Homo sapiens: one gene and its partners. Changing the gene in region 1 together with any one later gene gives a genetic interaction. Each region holds a gene or a part of one and is shown on either strand. Other genes may lie near its edges.

Region 1 (7,031 bases):
GCCTGTAATCCCAGTACTTTGGGAGGGTGAGGCGGGCGGATCACGAGGTCAGGAGATCGAGACCATCCTGGCTAACACGGTGAAACCCCATCTCTACTAAACAAAATACAAATAATAATAATAATAATAATAATAATAATAATAATAATAATTAGCCAGGCGTGGTGGCGGGCACCTGTAGTCCCATATACTCGGGAGGCTGAGGCAGGAGAATGGCGTGAACCTGGGAGGCAGAGCTTGCAGTGAGCCGAGATAGCACCACTGTACTCCAGCCTGGGCAACAGAGCGAGACTATGTCTCAAAAAAAAAAAAAAGATATTATATTTTTATCAAAGATATTTTTGCCAAGTTTTATACCCTTTGAAACTTAGTTTTATATTGCCTTGCCATGTGGTCCACCTTTAATTCTATAAACCTTTTCTAATTTACCACATTGTAAGATTTTAAGAACACAGATGATCTCATGCCTCATTCATTCATTTATTCAGAAAATATTTTCTTCAAGCATCTAAAATGTGCCAGGCCTTACGCCACGGATATAGGACTAAGGATGACACAGTGCTTGACATGGAGGAGATGATGAGGCCTGTGGTAGGGGGCTAAGAGATTGCATTACAGTGAGGGTTATGGGGTTCAGGAAATAAACCCCTATAGAAGGTAAAGCTTGAGCTGAGTTCTGGAGGAGTGTCATCTATTTGCGGGGAAGGTCACATTCCCAGTGAACGGTGATGGCAGCGGGAGGCAGACAGGTTCCTGGGTGGGAAGGGGCAGGTCCCTGGTGAAACCCCACTTTCAAGCCAGGGACAGCCTGAAGTTCCTGGGCCAGGATGCCAGTTCCTGGTGAAGTCCGAGATCCAGAAAGAGAACTTACTTGATGCCTTTCAGCCAATCAAGTAGTGCTTTTTCCAGGCCTGCCCATGGGCCAATCAGCACACACTTCCTCCTGTCTATGGACCAATCAACATGTACTTCCTCCATTCTGAGCCCATACGTGCCTGTGGATAGGAGCTACCCACTTCGAGTCTCCTCTCCACTGAGAGCTATTTGGTCAGCTGTTCTCTGCCTTGCTCACCCTCCAGATGTCTGCCAAACCTCATTCTTCCTGGACATGGGACAAGAACTTGGAACCTGCTGAATGGTGAGAGCAAAACGAGCTGTAATACTTTCCTGGCCAGCTTGCCAAGTTGCAGGTGGGAGCCAAAGTGGCTGTAACGGGTTCCTGGCCGGGTCGCTGAGCTGCGGGTGGTGACACGCTCCCAGACTGAGGGAGTGAAGAGTGGTGACCCTTGTAGAGGCCCAGGCCTTGGGATTCCCCAAGCCAGAGCTATAATGCTATAGCCCTCCCACCCTCTGCTGGCGCCCAGTGGCCACCCCATGCAGTGGGAAGCAGCGGTGGGGCCGGGACAGCCAAGGAGCCGTGGACCGGTGTGGGGCGGCAGGACCAAAAGACCTGTAACACAAATGAGGTGAAACATGCCGCCCCGGAAACACGACCCCCTGCTAGCCACGCTGTGGGTGATGAGAAGGACAGAAGAGCTGTGGCCCTTCTGGGAGCCCAGACCTCGGGGCTCCCCGAGCCAGGGCTGTGACACAGTGTAACCCCCCTTTGGGGCTCTGTGGCTCCTGGCATCTGTGAGCTTTCGGGTGCCACCATGTTCCCCTTGTCCAGATGCTGATGCCTGCAGTGGAAGCCACTTGTGGTACCTCTGGTCCAGCCACAGCCTTGCATGGAGCCGGCAGCTGTGCAGGCACCTAGAGCTGCCTGCTCCACCACAGCAGCTGCATGGCTGGGTGTGCGCAGTGGTTGGACCCCATGCTCGCTTGCTCACATACCCCTTGCCGCTCTGCACCTGGCTCACCCTTGGCAGGCGTGGGATCTGGGTTGGTAGTGCAAGCCGAGTGCAACCTGCTGGGCTGAGTGGGCTCGAGCAAAACTCTAGCAGAGGCACCGCTGGCCACGGAGGTTTCTAGCTGGTGAAGCGATACCCAAAGGATCCTATGACATTAGTGGCTGCATGGGCAGGTGCATTGGGGGTGCACTGGGCGCTCCTGCTGCCCTGCTTCCACGTGCCTCTGAGCACTGCACTACATAGACATTTAGGCCTCATAACAACCCCCTAGAGGAGGCTGAGCTCTGCATTATACAGACATTTAGGCCTCATAACAACCCCCTAGAGGAGGCTCAGTACTTAAGTAGGTCCCATTTGATAGATGAGGAAACTGAGGCTCAGTCGTCCATGGCTTGTCAAAGGTCACCAGCTAGTGAGCACAGAACCAGGTTAGCCCAGGTGGTACAGCTTCAGAGCTCACATGCGTAACTTGTTACATTATTCCTACTCAGGAAGTGGAAACCCCAGGAACAGATGGCTGATTGGAGGAGGGACCAGCATAAGGAAAGGGGCAGGATTCAGGGGTGGGAGGGGAAGTCGATATCTGTTTTGGATGCATGTCAGCACCAGCGTGGGAGTAGGCAGTGAGCTGTTGAAAATTCTGGAGTTCAGAAATAACCGTGTCTTGCAAATCCAGATGCAGAGGTCACTGCTTGAAGGTGGCAGTTTGCACCTTGGATATGAAGGAAATTGCTAAGAAGAAAGCAGTGAGAAGATGAGGGCACCAAAATTCAAGAAATGGCAGGGAAGGATCTGTGTATGGAGGGAGGAGGAGGTCAGAGGTGGCTGGAGCCCCAGGATGAAATAGGCAATGTTAGATATCGGCCACCTGTTGACAAGGGTCCCAGACTCAGCATCCTCTGAGTGGGTCTTCTCCCTCCCCTCTGCAGCCTGCCTTGCTTCACTGTTGCAAGCTTCCTAGTAAACCAGTCTTCTCCCTGCTATAATTTTATATTGCTTGTTGAAACGATATTCCAACAAGTAACATAAATATTTTTGATATACTAGGCTAAATAAAACATATTTAAAAATTAATGTCACCTATTTATCTTCATTTTTCTAATGTGGTCACTAGAAATTTACAAGTGCACTTGTGGCTCCCATGATGTTCCTATTGGTTGGTGCTGTGCTCCCACAGTGCAACGACTTCAATCTCGCCAAGACCTCTGGCTTGAGTTAAGCCAGGAAAACAGATACCACTCTAGACATCTCAAGCATGAAAGAATATAGCTCCAGGGAAGGCCAAGTCCTCACGAAGGGATGCAGAGCTCGGTGGTAAAGAGCACCGTTTTCTAAGAATTTGCTTTCAACAAAAATTGGGAACGCCCAATCAAGTTATTCGCTGACACAAATTAAAAGAGATTGATACATCAGTATGTGATTTTGGCATTTAAGTCCAAAGAATTGAATGACATTGCTACTCCTCCTTCACACGGGTGCCTCCGAGGGTCCCCGCTAAGGCCTCTCCCTCTCCACCCTATGGGCAGCTGACCTGCCGGGGGCCTCACCTGCTGGAGGAGCAACTGCAGGAGAAGCACCTGTTAGGGGCCGCACCTGGCCGGAGGGGCTCCTGCGGGGGAAGCACCTGCCCAGGGTGCACCTACCGTGTGCAGGCTGCGGACCACCCGGACAGGTGCCCCCTCGGCAGGGAGGGCGGTCACGGGGGCCGGCCAGGTCGGGGTGGGGTCCTCCCGGGGATCCAGACACGGCCCTGTGGCCTCTCCCCGCCCCAAGCCTTTCCTTTCTCTCCCCCTCTCTCTCTTCCTCTCCTTCCTCCTTCCCACAACACCGCCCGCTCGCAGCGCCCCGCCCTCTCCTGGACCGCGCACTCCCTCCGCGGAGGCCCCAGGACGCGCACGAGCGCGCAGTGGACGTCGGCGCGCGGACCGGGCATGGGTTCCCCAGCTGTGGCGCCCCGCGTGCGCGTTCCGTAGTGCCCGGTAGGGCACTGGGCTTAGCTGCTCGAGGCCGCGCCCTAAGAGGCGGGGCATAGACAGGAAGAAGACTGGCGGGCATGTGGGCGGGGCATGATCTGGAGGCGGGGCGGGCCGGGCGTGTGGGCGAGGCCCGAGGCTCGCGGCGCCCCAGCTCTCGCGAGAGCGGCGCCTGATGACGACCGGGAGGGCGGGGCCCGTCTGGGGCGCCGGCGGGTGCGTTTGAATCTGGTCCGAGCGCGGGAAACGGCGGGTCCCCGAGCCCAGGTAAGAGCTGCGGTGCCGAGCCGGGATTGGGTTCAGAGCAGGGGCTGGGAAGTAGCAGGGATCGGGCGGGAAGCCCCTCCTCGGCTGGTCGGGGTCCCAGCCTCCCCTCCCCTAAGGAGGCGGCCGACCTGCGTGCGGGCAGTGCTGCCTCTGACGGAACTGGACGGAACTGGCGACCCCGGGCCATCCCCCCTACCCAGCTCAGCGACGCCCGTCCTTCTTGTCCGTGTCGGAGGAAAATCCCAGCCCCGGGCGCGGGCACTGCCCTCAGAGAGCGACCCCCCAGCCCTGAGCATGGGCACCGTCCTCAGAGAGTGTCCCCTCAGTCCTGGGCATGGGCACTGCCCTCAGAGAGCGACCTCCTCTGTCCTGGGCATGGGAACTGCCCTCAGAGAGTGTCCCCTCAGTCCTGGGCATGGGCACTACCCTCAGAGAGCGACCCCCTCAGTCCTGAGCATGGGCACTGCCCTCAGAGAGCGTCCCCTCAGTCCTGGGCATGGGCACTACCCTCAGAGAGCGACCCCCTCAGTCCTGAGCATGGGCACTGCCCTCAGAGAGCGACCCCCTCAGTCCTGGGCATGGGCACTGCCCTCAGAGAGCGTCCCCTCAGTCCTGGGCATGGGCACTACCCTCAGAGAGCGACCCCCTCAGTCCTGAGCATGGGCACTGCCCTCAGAGAGCGTCCCCTCAGTCCTGGGCATGGGCACTGCCCTCAGAGAGCGACCCCCTCTGTCCTGGGCATGGGAACTGCCCTCAGAGAGAGTCCCCTCAGTCCTGGGTGTCGGTACTGCCCTTAGAGAGAGTCCCCCTGAGCCCTGGGTGTAGGCACTGCCCTCAGAGAGTATCTCCCCAGCTGTGGACGTGGGCATTGTCCTCAGAGACATCAGTCTCCTGAACTCTTGTTGCTGGTTTGGTGCCTCTTGTTGTGTCCATGAGGAAGGAGTTTGGGGACGGAGTGGGAAGTCACAGGTGGTGAGAAGGTAACAGGGATTTCTTCTTTTTAATGCTCATCTTGATTTAGTACCAGACCTCCTGTGCGAAGAGTAACCTGCTCTTCGGACTGATAACTGGATGGTGAGATGACTCCTTACCTTGAAAGTAGCATTCTGGCTGCAGGGCTGAGGTCTTATGCACATATGGTACAAGAAACATGGAATATTGCCACTTTGGGAGATAGATTGAAAAATTAACCATTAAAAAATTACAGTCACTAATATAAGAGGGAAAATGGGAAATATAGGAATAAGTTTGGTAGTCTAGAGGAAGTGTATTACTGTAAGTTGGACTAACATGCCAAAGAGGTACACTTGGAAATAGAGCAAACAAGAAAAGTGACCAGAACTATGAAAAAGTGGAGAGTGTTCACAGACTTGCCGGGCGAAGATGTATGATTCCATGTGTTTGCTGCACCTTATTGGATTATTTTTCTAAAATCATGAATTTGTCCTAGCCACTATTCATTATGCTTGTTACTGGCCACTCTCCCTTCCCTCCCCATTTTCTTTGTCAGTGAAAAATGTGCCAGTCATGCTTGATTTAAAGAGGGAGACACGTTGTCGTTAGGCAATTTCATCATTGCATGAACATCACAGAGTGGACTTGCCTACACCTAGAGGTGTAGCCTACACACATAGGCTGTATGGTGTAGCCTACTGCTCCTAGAATGTTACTGTACTGAATACTGTAGGCAACTGTAATACAATGGCAAGTATTTGCATCGCTAAACATATCTAAGCATAGAAAAAGCACAGTAAAAATATGGCATTATAATCTTATGGGACCACGGTCATACATGTGGTCTGTTGTTGACTGAAATGTTATGTGGTCCATGACCGTAGTTCATAGTTCAGCCATTTGAGTTGAGGAATGAGATGACCAGACTTCACTGTTAACTTATTTCGGGAGTCATTAAACTGAGGTTATTTTTGCTTTGTTCAATTTGGACATTAAAATCTAGTATTATATGTTTAAGATGACTCTCTGTCCCCATAATTATTGGCAATAATTTTCCATATTGCTCTATTTATAATGGTGCAGGTGGTTTTCATTTATTTTTAAAGTGAGGGGGCTCCTACTGCAAATGTGTTCCATCATTTGCTATTACCTCATCTTTAGGTTGATGTTTTTTCAGTAGGGCACCAGTAGCACCAGGTATTGTGAATGCGAAATAGAATTTCCTGGAAAAACACAGGCAGGATGGAGGGTATACAAAGTCCCCTGAGCTCTCATTATCCCGAAGGGGTGGGAGGAGGGTGCTGTGGTTGAGCATGCCTAATGCATAGTCTAACAAGATCCCAGGTGACCCCCGGGGCCACTGTTTTCCATCTCACTTTGAATAACAAGATGACACTAACAGTGGGATTTTTTTGATGGAGGAATGGCCTTTAGAAAGGGAGCATCTTCAGAATCTGCAGCTGGGATCAGATTGTTCTTTTGTTGAATCAACTCAGCTCTGCCGAGCCAGCATCTTGCTAAGGTACTAAAAAGGGAGAGATGGTGGTGAGCTTCCTAAGGCTATTTGGATTTCTCCCTCCTTAGTTGGTAATTTTATTAACAATTGTTGATAAAATATCATTAATATCATGTTATTCACATCCCCAGTAAAGGAAATAAGTAAATTGTTTTTCAGATATTATAGCGTGTTTTATGTCAGAATGTTTTTAGAAACTGTCTGCCATACGTGGTTGAGGAATTTTCTTGCAGTTCTTGGATGTTAATATCAAATTAAATCTTACAGGAAAAGATATATTTGCAAGTGTTTCAGTATGATTGTGTTTTCCATTAGGGTTACAAAATAAATGCCATTTGAACAGTGCCATCTGTCATGGAAAAACGTGAGACGTTTGTACAAGCCGTGTCTAAGGAGCTGGTTGGAGAGTTTTTGCAATTTGTTCAACTTGATGTAAGTTTCATGTTTTAGTTTTGTTGTGATTTTTGACTG
Region 2 (5,097 bases), on another chromosome or scaffold:
ATGGGGAAATGATGGCATTAGCTCCTACAGCTGCTGACATTCCCGCACAGGCTCTGAATGCTGCCTCTTCCAGCAGGCCATTAGAAACTGACAAAACTCCCCATGGCAAATGTTGAATTGTTTCAAAAAGTACACAGCAACACCACACATAGGGCTGCCACAGGAATGCATCCCCAGCACAGAATGGGGAGTGTTTAAAATAGGGTACTGGCTTCATAGAATATATTTTCCCTTCTGTCATTTTATTTATTCTCAGTGTCTCCCCACTTGATAGAGGGGTAAACTGAGACATGGCAGTATAGTAGGTTTGCACAAAGTCACAGGGCATGTGAAGCCAGCCCAAGGAAGAAGGCTTCCTGACTTGGCCCAGCATTCCTCCTTTGAGCTCAGCCCTTGTTGTAAAGGAGTATAAGAGGCATCCCTCCATGACCAGGCAGGCCTTGTCAAAGGTGCTGAGGGGGAAGGCTGTTGCCTCTGAACAGGACAGCCCTGGGCCCATCATGCCTGCCTGGTTTCAGTGCTGCAGCCCAGTGGCTGCCACAGACTCTTCCTCCCCCATTTCAGTGAAACACAGTGGAGTGAGCAAGAGACCCAGAGCCTTCCAAAAGCTTGTTTTCCTTCCCCAGCTTGGATTGTTGGCCAGAAGGTGAAAACCAGGAGTATGCCCTCCTCGAGCACAGCTCATGGTTGAATTGTTTCTGCCAGGAGAGTTTGAACCAGGTCTGAGCCTCATGCAGAAAGGGGCCTTACGGTAGCTTATCAGGAAAGTGAAGCACCTCCTCCTTCCTGTGAAATCACCATCAGAATATTGAGTTAGGCCACACATGGTGGTGCACACCTGTAGTCCCAGCTACTCCAGAGGAAAAGGTGAGGATCACTTGAGCCTAGGAGGTCAAGGCTGTAGTTAGCCATGATGGTCACTGTACTCTAAACTGGGCAACAGAGCAAGAGCCTGCCTCAAAAAAAAAAAAAGAGAAAGAAAAAAGTTTAAATAAATAAGAAGTTGAGTTAAATCTTATCGTTGACACCAAGACTTAAGACTCTGTGGATCTGCTCATTCACTTACATTTATTTAGCAAATAAATTCTTTCTTTGCAAGGATTTATTTGCTAAATATTGGGATAAATAAGACTCAGATCATATTTTTAAATGCAGACTGCAAATTATCCTTTCAGACATATATAGTTAATAAGCCAATTTTAAAACAACCTTATTTTTAAGCTTTTTAAAGAACTCTCCAGTTCAGCTGAATGGTAAATGGTAACAGAGCCTAGGTTATTACAAGCCTTTTGAAAAGAAATAGTCTGAGCAGGCATAGTGGCTCAAGCCTCTAATCCCACACTGAGGCGGACAGATGACTTGAGCCCAGGAGTTTGAGACCAGCCTGGGCAACATGGTGAAACCCCCATCTCTACAAAAAATACAAAAATTAGCCAGGCATGATGGCACATGCCTGTATTCCCAGCTACTCAGGAGACTGAGGCAGGAGGATTCCCTGAACCTGGGAGGCAGAGGTTGCAGTGGGCCAAGATCACACCACTGCATTTCAGCCTAGGCAACAGAGACAGACCTTGTCTCAAAAAAGAAAAAAAAGAAAGCCTATTTTTAAAGGATTCTCACTTGAACTCATTTATTCCTCCTTGCCTTTCTCTTACTCTAAATTGGTTAAGCATTTCTACCTAAAATATAAGTACAAGGTAATATAAATGAGTTTTATCAATATTTTGATCAATAACTATATCAATTTATTTTTTAATTAAGATGGGGCTGAAAATTTTATCAACTACTAGAAAAAGAAAATGTTGCTTCCAATATAGGAGACAAAAGCAGAAGAGGTTATATCTCACTGAGATAGCCTTCCTTCTGAGAGGGGAAATGAAATATTAATCTGATCTTGGAACTCGCTTCCAATTAATTATGCATGCCCCGAGTCAGCATACAGTGTTGCCATCATCATAATCAAATGCACATTAGCAGCTTTTTCTACTTGGAATAGGCTGCCTTGCAGGGTGGCGTTTCCTTGACATTGCAGTCATTCAGAAAGAGGCTGATGAGGGCATCCTGGAGGAGGACATGTGGGTTATTTGGGGGTCAGCCTTGATGATCTTTCATATCATTTCCCTCTCTGCAAGGCTGGGATCCTGAAAGGCTAGGAGATTTCGGGTGCAGGTTAATTGAATAATCTGGAGTTCTTACATGACAGGCTGTCATGATCAATTTTCAAGGAACTCTACTTCACCAATGTGGAGGGATTTGGTTAAGGAATAGTGAGGAACAGTGGCCAGGTACGTTGAGACCTAATTCTATAAAGGCCTGAAAAGCCAGGGGAGCAACTGTAGACTTGATGAGGTAGGGACAGCGGAGCCCAAAGACATGACCAAAAAAATCTTTAAAGGAGAGCCTGGGGGTAAAAATCAGCTGGCAAAGATCTGTAGGCTGTTTGAAATGGGAAGAAGCCTGAGGCAGGAAGCGCAGTTGAGCTGTTGCAAATCCATGCAGTACCAAGTGATGTGGCCCAAGTAAAGATGGTGCCTGAAGGAGAGAGGAGGGAACTAATGGGGGGAACAAACTTGCATAAGCCGAGGACTCTGTTTGCCTGGATGATTTCCACCTGGGAGACTACGAGAATGCAGGTAGACTATAAAAACTAGACTTATGGGAAGAGAAGCTGCTTTGAGAATATAGGAGATGAGAGATCATTTGATTTTTTATATTTATTTATTTATTTATTTATTTAGAGACAGGGTCTCACTCTGTCACCCAGGCTGGAGTACAGTGGCACTATGCTGGCTCACTGCAACCTCCGCCTCCCAGGCTCAAGTGATTCCCCCCATCTCAGCCTCCCGAGTAGCTGGAACTACAGGCGCATGCTGCCAACACCCGGCCAATTTTCTGTATTTTTGATAGAGATGGGGTTTTGCCATGTTGCCCAGGCTGGTCTCTAATTCCTGAGCTTAGATGATCCCCCCGCCTCGGCCTCCCAAAGTGCTGGGATTACAGGCGTGAGCCCTTGCAGCAGCCTTATTTTTATGTATTTATTTTTTTTTTGAGACAGAGTCTCACTCTGTCACCCAGGCTGGAGTGCAGTGGCGTGATGATGGCTCACTGCAACCTCTGCCTTGTGGGTTCAAGCGATTCTTGTGCCTCAGCCTCCCAAATAGCTGGGACTACAGGCACGCACCACCATGTCTGGCTAATTTTTTGTATTTTTAGTAGAGATGGGGTTTCACCACGTTGGCCAGGCTGGTCTCGAACTCCTGACCTCAGGCGATCCATCCGCCTCGGCCTCCTAAAGTGCTGGGATTACAGGTGAGAGCCACTGAGCCCAGCCAAAAGATCATTTGATTTTAAACCAGTTTAGTTTTATGAAACTGTGGGATGTCAGTGGAGATATGGAAAATATACCTCTAAATTGAAAAATGGTCAAAGTTGGAAATTTAGATGTAGGAAAAATCGGCAGAGGGGTGATAGTGATCGTGTGTTGTGGTTGTATCCACTGGGCATGGTTTTAACACTACACCATTGTCATCAATGTATAGATGCAGTTGGTGGGTATTTTGATTATTTGTAATTTAAGGTAATCAGAATAGGTACACATATCTACTTATGAATATGTTAAATGTGTGTATGTTTTTTCAACTACTTTGAAAATTAGGTATAAGCCATGGCTGAACACAGAGATTTGGAAGTTGGGGGGCTGGGCACATGGTGGCTCACACCTGTAATCCCAACATTTTGGGTAGCTGAGGTGGGCAGATCATTTGAGCTCAGGAGTTCGAGACCAGCCTGGGCAACATTTAGTGAGATCCCATCTCTTAAAAAATTATAAAAATAAAAATAAATTTAAAAATAGAGATTTAGAAGTTGAATTATACCTTAACTGACCCTTAGTAGAGAAAGGCTTTGGAGGAAGTGAGATCTTGGGTGCTATTTCAGTATTGAAATAATGATTTGGAAAGTTCAAAGGGAGAAAACATTTCCAATGTAAATTATAGCGTGAGAGCAGCTTCTTTGTTGCACTCACAACCATTTCTTTTTCCTAACTCAATGAGCACAGAGAGGGTAAGATGTCAGACACTAAAACAGTGAGGCTGCTTTAGTGATGGTTTGCTGAGATGATGCACACTTGCCATCGTGTAGCTCCCTGACACCATGAAATGTGTGGTCTCTCATCTTTATATTCTCTCATCAGCCCTAGTGGAGGAGAGTCAGTGTTGGAGCCTGGGCTCTTCCTTTTATCTTTTGTTTTCTTTCTCTGATGAAGGACCCAAAGCAGCAGAAGATCTACGACCTATTCCAGAAGTCCTTTGAGAAAGAAGGAAGTGATATGGAGCTCCTGGAAGCAGCAGAGTCCTTTGACCCAGGAAGTGCTTCAGGAACATCTGGAAGTAGTTCCCAGAACATGGGAGACACCCTGGATGAAAGCTCATTGACAGCCAGTCCACAGAAGAAAAGGAGATTTGAATTTTTTGATAACTGGGACAGCTTTACGTCTCCCCTGTAAAAGGGGCAAAAAGAAAAAAATAAAAAGCATTTTAAAATCATGGAATTGAAATAAAATAATGTATTTTGTTTTAAAACTTTTTGAGCTTCTCTTGCCATTGCAGCAGTGCCTATGCCTGTGTCCAGGCTCAGCAGGAGACCAGGCCGAGCATCAGCTTTCCATTCCTGTGTCATTACGTGTGGGCTTGCTTGGGGTCTTAACCTCCGCTCTTCTGGCTTAGGGATGGACACAGCGAGTTGTAGTAGTGGGTAATTCATGTTCTCTAAAGAATGAGGTCCTTCCTACACAGTCCCCATAATCTAGAATTTTAAAATTTAGTGACTCAACAAATATTTATAGGGCACCTAATTTGTGCAGGCACTGTCCTAGGTGTTGGTAGTCATTCATCCAACAAAAGACAAAAGCGTGAGCCTTTGCCGAACTTACGCAGCGGGAGAGGCAATGGTTGTAGGTTCTCTTTTCCAATATAACTCTTCATGGACACTGAAATTTGAATTTTATTAATGTTCACGTATCACAAATTATTTTTTTTCTGCCATTTAAAAATGTGAAAACCATTCCTTGTTTACCAGCTGTACAGAAACAGACAGTGG
Region 3 (7,576 bases), on another chromosome or scaffold:
AGCTCTGTAAGAAAATAGAGATTTGTGGCTTTTTATTTTTTCATGCTAGTATCATATAGTATCACTCTAGCATAGTGGCTCAGCTCATGGGATTTAGAGTGGCCAACTCACAGCCCTTGGGCAAGCTAGTAAATACACTGAAGCCTCAGTTTCCTCATCTACAAAACAGAAATAACAGGACCTAACTCACAAGGGTCCTTCCAAGGATTACATTTAATTAGATGATCCATGGAAAGAGCTGAGATTCATGCCTGGCAGTAAGTATTCAATAAATATTAGCTATTATTGCTATTAAATGTGAGCCAACACATTCTAAAAGTCAACATACGCAGATTACTTCAGCCTCTATAAAAATGTCAGTAAAGATCAATAACCTAGCCAGCTCACAATCATTCACGTGACTTAGGTGAGAACCATGTAAGTTAACTTTCTCACAAGAAAGGGCTAAACTTTGTTTCATTACTTACATTACCTACTCAGCCCAGCCTGACAGCCAAAAGAACACATTCCATATTAAAGATCCCACCTTCCTCTAGCAAGGTCAAAAGGACTTCTTACATCCTCACCTGCACATCCTTTCTTTGCTCCTGTATCCCAAAGAAACATGTCTATACTGTGGCTTTCTAAACTGCAGGCCTCACCTCCTCCCTCTTTTAAAATCGTGATAGGTTGGTTAAACGTACTTAAGAAACACTCCAACCCCTGACAATTCTCTGCGCCCAGTCTTCCACAACCCCCAGCTCAGAAGTCACCTCCTCTGAGAAATTTCCCCACCCTCAGACAAAATTAACTCCCCTATACTTCAAAGCATTTTGGGTACACATATGCCCCAGTAGTTACCTTATAATTAACTAATTATGTCTCCCCCAATAGACTGAATTGAGAGCAAGGGAGTGTTATGGTTACAGGATCAGCTCTAGCACCAAGCACAGTGGTTGGCACATATCTGGTGCTCAAGAAATGCCATACTTTAAACCAGATTCTCTCCTGGCTGAGTACCATCTCCTGCTGGATGCCCCACTTCAAACTCTGAACATAAGGTTGCTCTCAGTAGAGCAGGCTAACATGATGGACTGCTGATTACAACATTAGAAAACCTACTCATCAACTTCTCCCATTGGAGAGGTTCCCGGAACCCAAACTCAATTGAGCAGGATTATGTACCATCAAAATCAGTGGGAATTCCCAGCACACTACAGAAGGTAACTTCTCCTTCAACAGGGTTGTTCGAAAGCCTGCAAGGATGAGCTTTTTATTGGAGGACTCTTCCCTGGGTAACTGAAGTGGAAATACAGTAAGAATAAATGCCTTGATTTGGCTGAAAAGGGTTCAAAAACATAAAGAATTGGGAAAAAAAAAAAAAGCCAGTTCTTGATTCCTGAAAAACAGTGGCTCGTGAAAAAGAATGAACAGGAAGCAGGGGTGGGTACTGGACACTCTTTGCTTCAATAAATAAAATCTTTTTTTCCTCCTTACAACCCAAACGAAAAGGCCAACACACCAGGTCCACAAGAGATGCTCAACAATCTTTCCTTCCAACAAGTACACTAAACTGCGTTTCCAGAAAAACACTGCATTGGGAACCTCGACCACAATGAAAAGTTCCAGTGACTAACATAATTTTTTAAAAATCCAACATTTACATTGGGTGACCCACAGAGAACTTGCAAACTTTCTTTAGGGAGGTACTGCTACCTTTGCAAAGAACGTAACTTGGGAAAAACAACCTGGAAATATAAAGAACTCCACAAAGCGTGGCTTTAGTTTTAGAGCCATAATTCCTATCATAAACAGCCTATCAAAAAAAAAATTAACAGTTGCTTAAGGAAATCTTTCATTCTGGAAGCAGAAAAGGAAACAAACATGAAGCATAAAGGGAATAACCCCCAAAATAAAGTTTAAAAAATAATAATTCAGTCCCCCAGCCTTCCCTCTCTGGTGAAGTATGTGATTTATACGGCTTTGCTCTGCAGAAAGCTCATTCTGGGCAGCTCAAGGAAAGAGCCGAGGGAGGGAGAGAAAGAGACACAGGCACAGAAAGGAGAGGAGAGAGAAAAAGAAAATGGCGCAGAGACTAAGTCCCGACCGTCGACAAGGCGACTTTCCCGGGAGGAATCCCGGCCCGGAAAGACCGCCCGAGGCCCGGTGGCGGACGACACGGGGTCTCCGTTGTCCCCTCTTGGGAGGGCCGGGATCTGGAGGAGCTGGGGTCCCCGGAAAGGGGGTCAAGAGGCGGCCCGATGGGAACAATGGGGCCGGTGAGCGAGGAGCCGGGACTTAGTCTCTGGGACGCCATGTCTGTCCTCTGCCCGGCACCGGCAGGGCGCGGGGGAGGCGGCCGGCGGCTGGGGGGCCCCGGAGTCGGCGCAGGGGGCACACTCACCATTCAATCGGAAATCCGCTTCGATCTGGAAAAAGAAAAGGAGAGAATATCAAACAACAGCCACTTTAACCCCTCCGGCGGCGAGCGCGCGCGGCCGGGGTCTGGCTCACCCTGCGCCCCCGGGGAGGACGGGGACCCGGGGGTGGCCACAGAGGGCAGCCATCCCTGCCTCGAACTGTAACTTCGCGGCCCTCGCTCGCGGCCTAGCGAGCCGATCTACTCCGGCAGGCGGCCCCTCACCGGGGGCTCCGGCCTGTCAAAGCTGCCGGGCCGGGGCTGGGGTCGGGGCCTGCGCCGGGGGTCGCGGGACGGCCAGGCCGGGGTCCGGGGCCGCCAGGGTCAGGCCGGGCCGTACCTGGGAATCGTTGTGGAGGTGGTCCCCACTCATGTCGGCCCGGAGGGACGAGCGCGGCGGCAGGCGAGGCGGCGTGGGGGAGACGCAGACGGCGAACCGGCCTGTGCGGGCGGACGGGGACTCCGGAGGCTCGAGGAGGCGCAGGTAAGCGGCGGTGACTGTGGGCCCGAGACTCCAGAAACGGCTGAGGCTGCTACCACGGCGGCGACGCTGCCTGACTGCCGGGCGGGCGGCGAGAACAGACCCCAGCAGTTGTGTAACAGCCTAAGTTCGCATTTGGGCTCACTGCGCCTGCGCGGCCGCTTTTAAACAACACGTCGGCGACGTCAGCGCTCGCGGAAAGAGGCAGAGGGTTGCGGCCCGCCCCCTCGCTGTTCGCCAGACGGACCTGTCTTTGCATCGCAAGCCCCGCCTCCGGACCGTGCGCGCTCCGCTGTGATTTGCATAAGGAGCCGACTCCTCCCACGGCGTCCCACCCCAAGCAGCCTCCCCTTCCTCTCCAGACGCTTTTTCTCGGAACCCCAGCCCCTCTGCTAGGCAGTGCGCAGGCGCCACCCGGGCACCGCCTCCGGACCAGGGCTGGCCGCGCAGCCACGTGGTGGGCCTTTAAAGGCCGCGGCGGGACCCAGCAATCTTGGGCAGAGCTGGTATCCGGCGTCCGCATCTCCTTGGAGCGGCGAGTACCTTGGCAGCTGGGACCCCAGAGGTCTCCCCAGCGCCTCCTTTCTTGCTAAGCCGACCCTGAGGCCGCCTGGTGGGAGGAGTCCCCTCCCCAGCCTTTGTCCAGGCCCTCCAACTTCTGGATTATTTCACGCCCACTTTTTAAAAATTATTTTAATTTTTCAACCAACCAAGGGTCCGGTTTAACCCCAGTTTTCCGCCGAGTACATGTAGCCCTGGGTCACCAAGGGTCTGATTTCTTTGGTTCATTCTACAAATACTTATTGAGCATCCGCTATGAGCCCAGGAATTGTGCTGAGGGAAGGGGGAATGCAAGAGACCAAAGGGAACTGAACCTGTCTCTATCCGCCCCTGTATCCCTGGCATGCTGGGAGGACGGGGCAAATGGGGAATAGAACTACCGTTTATAGAGCATCTATTCTGTGCCCAGCTCTGAATTCTCACAATAGCTCTGTGAGGTCGCCTGTATTACAAAAGTCAAACTGTCCTAAAGACAAGGGACCAACAGCCAGCTACCTTGCATCTATAGTTGGATACCTCTCAAGCTTCTCTGGGAATGAACTGAACTCCACTCAGCTAGAAAAAGCCCCATCCTGACACCTTCCTTTCCCTCATTTCCCACTAGTCCCGCTGATTGCATCTCTTTGCTTCATCTACTTCTCTCTGCTGCCCATAAGCCTTTGAAGTCTGCGTTCTCCTGCTTGGATTAATACAATGTGCTGGCTGGGGGTGGTGTCTCACACTTGTAATCTTAGCACTTTGGGAGGCCGAGGCTGGCAGATCACTTGAACCCAGGAGTTCAAGACCAGCCTGGGCAACATGGCAGAACCCTGACTCTACAAAAAAATACAAAAACTGGCGGGGTGTGGTGGCATGTGCCTGTAGTCCCGGCTACTCGGGAGGCTGAGGTGGGAGGATCACCTGAGCCCGAGGAGGAGGTCGAGGCTGCACTGCACTCCAGCCTGGGCAACAGAGTGAGACCTGGTTTAAAAAAAACAAAAAACAAACCAACAAAAAACACCGCACTCCAAAACACTACACTTCTAACAGGGATTGCTGCTTCCATTCTTGGCCCTCTCGTAAACTGCATTCCAACAATTGCCAAAGTGATCTTCTCAATATGCTAATCTAACCATTACTCCTTTGTGGATATTGCCACATCTATTACCACTTTCACTATTATTATTTCATATTTTAATTGATCTCCTTTTTATTTACCTTCATCCTAAGTGTTATCTGTGAAATAATATCTATGAAATCATTTGGAAGTAAATATGAAAACTGTTCATCCAGTGGACCATCAGTATCTTTATCACATCTAATGTTTACCATCACATGTTTACCATTAGATGTGTTTACCACATCTTGTGAATGCTTCAAGATCAACCTAAATATCACTTTTTCAAAGTGACTCTCCGGCGCACTACTGACCCTGCTTCCACTGGCTGACCAAGGGTGCCTTATAGGCCAGGCGCGGTGGCTAACGCCTGTAATCACAGCACTTTGGGAGGTCAATGTGGATCAATCACTTGAGGTCAGGAGTTCAACAACAGCCTGGCCAACATGGTGAAACCCTGTCTCTACTAAAAATACAAAAATTAGCAGAGTGTGGTGGTTCACACCTGTAATCCCAGCTACTCGGGAGGCTGAGGCAGGAGAATCGCTTGAACCTGGGAGGCAGAGGTTGCAGTGAGCCGAGACCGCACCACTGTACCCCAGCCTGGGCAACAGAGCGAGTGAGTCTCAAAAAATAAATAAACAAATAAAAATAAAAGGTGCCTTATAGTATCTATCTCCTTTGTAACACTTATGACACTTGTTATTAAGTTACAAATGTAGTAATTGGTTTCCTGTCTATTTCCCCTATAGCAAGCAAGGTCTGTGAGAGGGGGGAATCTTGTCCATCTTGCCTACCACTGAATTCCCAGCACCCAGCAACAGGCCCTCCTACAGAAGAGGTGCTCAAGAAATGGGCAAATCAAAGCAGGTTACCCTGCTTTGGTTAGGAGCACACATTTGGAAGTCAAATCAACTTAGGTTTGAATTCTGCTCTGCTGTTTGTTACCTGTGTGATATCAGGCAAGTTGTTTAACTTCTCTGAGTCCCTGTTTCCTCATCCACTCCATGGTGATCATTGTGGGTATGTAATGACTATCAAAAAATAATGGTTTGAGGGCAGGCACCTAGTAAGTGCTGAGTCTTGGATTCATACTCAGGTCGGCCTGACTCCAAAGCTATACTCTTTCTCTGAAGCAAGCTGCCAGAGCCAGTTTTGCCTTGCTGTTGGTGTCTCTTCTCATACTCTTCCCATCTCAGGATCAATCCCTGGCCAGAAGATGAGGCATCTGCTTGCTGCAGTGAGTCCAAGATAATTTGAGGACGGCCTTCAGGAATAACAATGCATCCACACTACTCCACTCTCCCAACCCCCCGTTTCCCAGGGAGAATCTGCATTTGCTTTTTTTTCTTTTTTTTTTTTTTTTTGAGATGGAGTCTCTGTCACCCAGGCTGGAGTGCAGTGGTGCCATCTGGGCTTACTGCAACCTCCGCCTCCTGGGTTCAAGCAATTATCCTGCCTCAGCCTCCCGGGTAGCTGGGATTACAGCCACGTACCACCACACCCAGCTAATTTTTGCAATTTTAGTAGAGACAAGGTTTCACTATGTTGGTCAGGCTGGTCTCAAACTCCTGACCTCGTGATCTGCCCACCTTTGCCTCCCAAAGTGCTGGGATTACAGGCATGAGCCACTGTACCCAGCCTGCATTTGCTTTCCAGGCCCCTCCAAAGAAGACTAGGTAGGCATGAAAACAGCACAGACTTCACAATGGCAGACCGAGGACATCCCCGTGCACAGACATGGAAATATCCGGGCAGTCTTGTCACAGGCTGAACTTCTCTGCCAGCATGTGTGGCTGGCAGTGCTCAGAGGTTGACTGACTTACTCTGTCTTACAGAGACCACTCCTGACTCCTAACACTTCAAACACATGTCCCCACCATATGGTACTTGAGGAGATTATTGATAGTGCATGGACAAGCATTTTAATTCTAATAGATATGTATTTCGATGTGTATGAGAAAAAATAACCATTGTTTTAAGGATATAACTGGGATGAGGCTTTTTAAAAAAGTGATTGATTTACATAAAAACATATAGGAATAGTGCACAGAGCGGACATATAAGACAAACTCCAGGAAGGCTATAGGCAAATAAATGAGGTTTGGGAAACACTGCTTTAAATCAAGACTGTTCACTCATGGACCATCCCAACCCTTATAAAAATAACTAGCAGGTGAAAACTGGTAGTGTAGGTCTGTCTCCAAAGTATGCATTGGGAACAGTGGACGGTTTATAGATAATCCACTAAAAGAAGAGCTCCACATACAAATACATACATTATTATATTTACAGTTAAACAGGTTTTTTCCCAGGTGCCTTCTCAGGGTCTTCCATATGTAAATACTTACGTGACTCTTGAAAAGAGGGACATGGTGTGCAGCATCTCCAAAATGTAGGCAAACCCGGCCAGGAGCGGTGGCTCATGCCTGTAGTGCCAGCACTTTGGGAGGCCGAGGGCGGGGGTGGATCACCTGAGGTCAGGAGTTCGAGACCAGCCTGGTCAACATGGTGAAAACTCGTCTCTACTAAAATTACAAAAATTAGGCCGGGCGCAGTGGCTCACGCCTGTAATCTTAGCACTTCGGGAGGCCAAGGCAGGCAGATCACCTGAGGTCAGGACTTTGAGACCTGCCTGGCCAACATGGTGAAACCCTGTCTCTACTAAAAATAGAAAAATTAGCTGAGCATGGTTGGCACACACCTGTAATCCCAGCTACTTGGGAGACTGAGGCAGGAGAACTGCTTGAATCCTGGAGGCAGAGGTTACAGTGAGCCAAGATGGCGCCACTGCACTCCAGCCTGGGTGACAGAGCGAGACTCCATCTTGGAAAAAAAAATGTAGGTAAATCCAAAAACACTTTTTTCCAGACTACCTCTTGAGACTTGGGCTTTTTGGGGGTGGTAGAGAGGGTGCACCATTCCTGGAGGTACTGCAATCCAGGCCAATGTGTAGAGTGGACAGAGCAAGCTCCTATTCCATCTCCTTGCTCCAAAAATCTATTTATTATATTATCCTCAGATAGAGGATGTATCAGAT

Evidence for each region. Genes that interact genetically often act in the same process or in processes that back each other up.
Region 2: of NCAPG2 (region 1) and SMARCAL1, changing one suppresses a phenotype caused by changing the other (phenotypic suppression), as found in Homo sapiens cells (one study listed by BioGRID).
Region 3: of NCAPG2 (region 1) and TOP1, changing one suppresses a phenotype caused by changing the other (phenotypic suppression), as found in Homo sapiens cells (one study listed by BioGRID).

What each region holds. Positions count from the first base shown.
Region 1 is NC_000007.14:158,701,783-158,708,813, reverse strand, and holds the start of NCAPG2 (condensin-2 complex subunit G2), read left to right. Parts: upstream 1-4,009; 5' UTR 4,010-4,090; intron 4,091-5,111; exon of another isoform or gene 5,112-6,566; intron 6,567-6,875; 5' UTR 6,876-6,914; coding exon 6,915-6,992; intron 6,993-7,031. UniProt on the Homo sapiens protein: Regulatory subunit of the condensin-2 complex, a complex which establishes mitotic chromosome architecture and is involved in physical rigidity of the chromatid axis.
Region 2 is NC_000002.12:216,478,474-216,483,570, forward strand, and holds the end of SMARCAL1 (SWI/SNF-related matrix-associated actin-dependent regulator of chromatin subfamily A-like protein 1), read left to right. Parts: intron 1-4,264; coding exon 4,265-4,504; 3' UTR 4,505-4,580; downstream 4,581-5,097. UniProt on the Homo sapiens protein: ATP-dependent annealing helicase that binds selectively to fork DNA relative to ssDNA or dsDNA and catalyzes the rewinding of the stably unwound DNA. Rewinds single-stranded DNA bubbles that are stably bound by replication protein A (RPA).
Region 3 is NC_000020.11:41,024,263-41,031,838, reverse strand, and holds the start of TOP1 (DNA topoisomerase 1), read right to left. Parts: upstream 3,018-7,576; 5' UTR 2,772-3,017; coding exon 2,739-2,771; intron 2,409-2,738; coding exon 2,384-2,408; intron 1-2,383. UniProt on the Homo sapiens protein: Releases the supercoiling and torsional tension of DNA introduced during the DNA replication and transcription by transiently cleaving and rejoining one strand of the DNA duplex.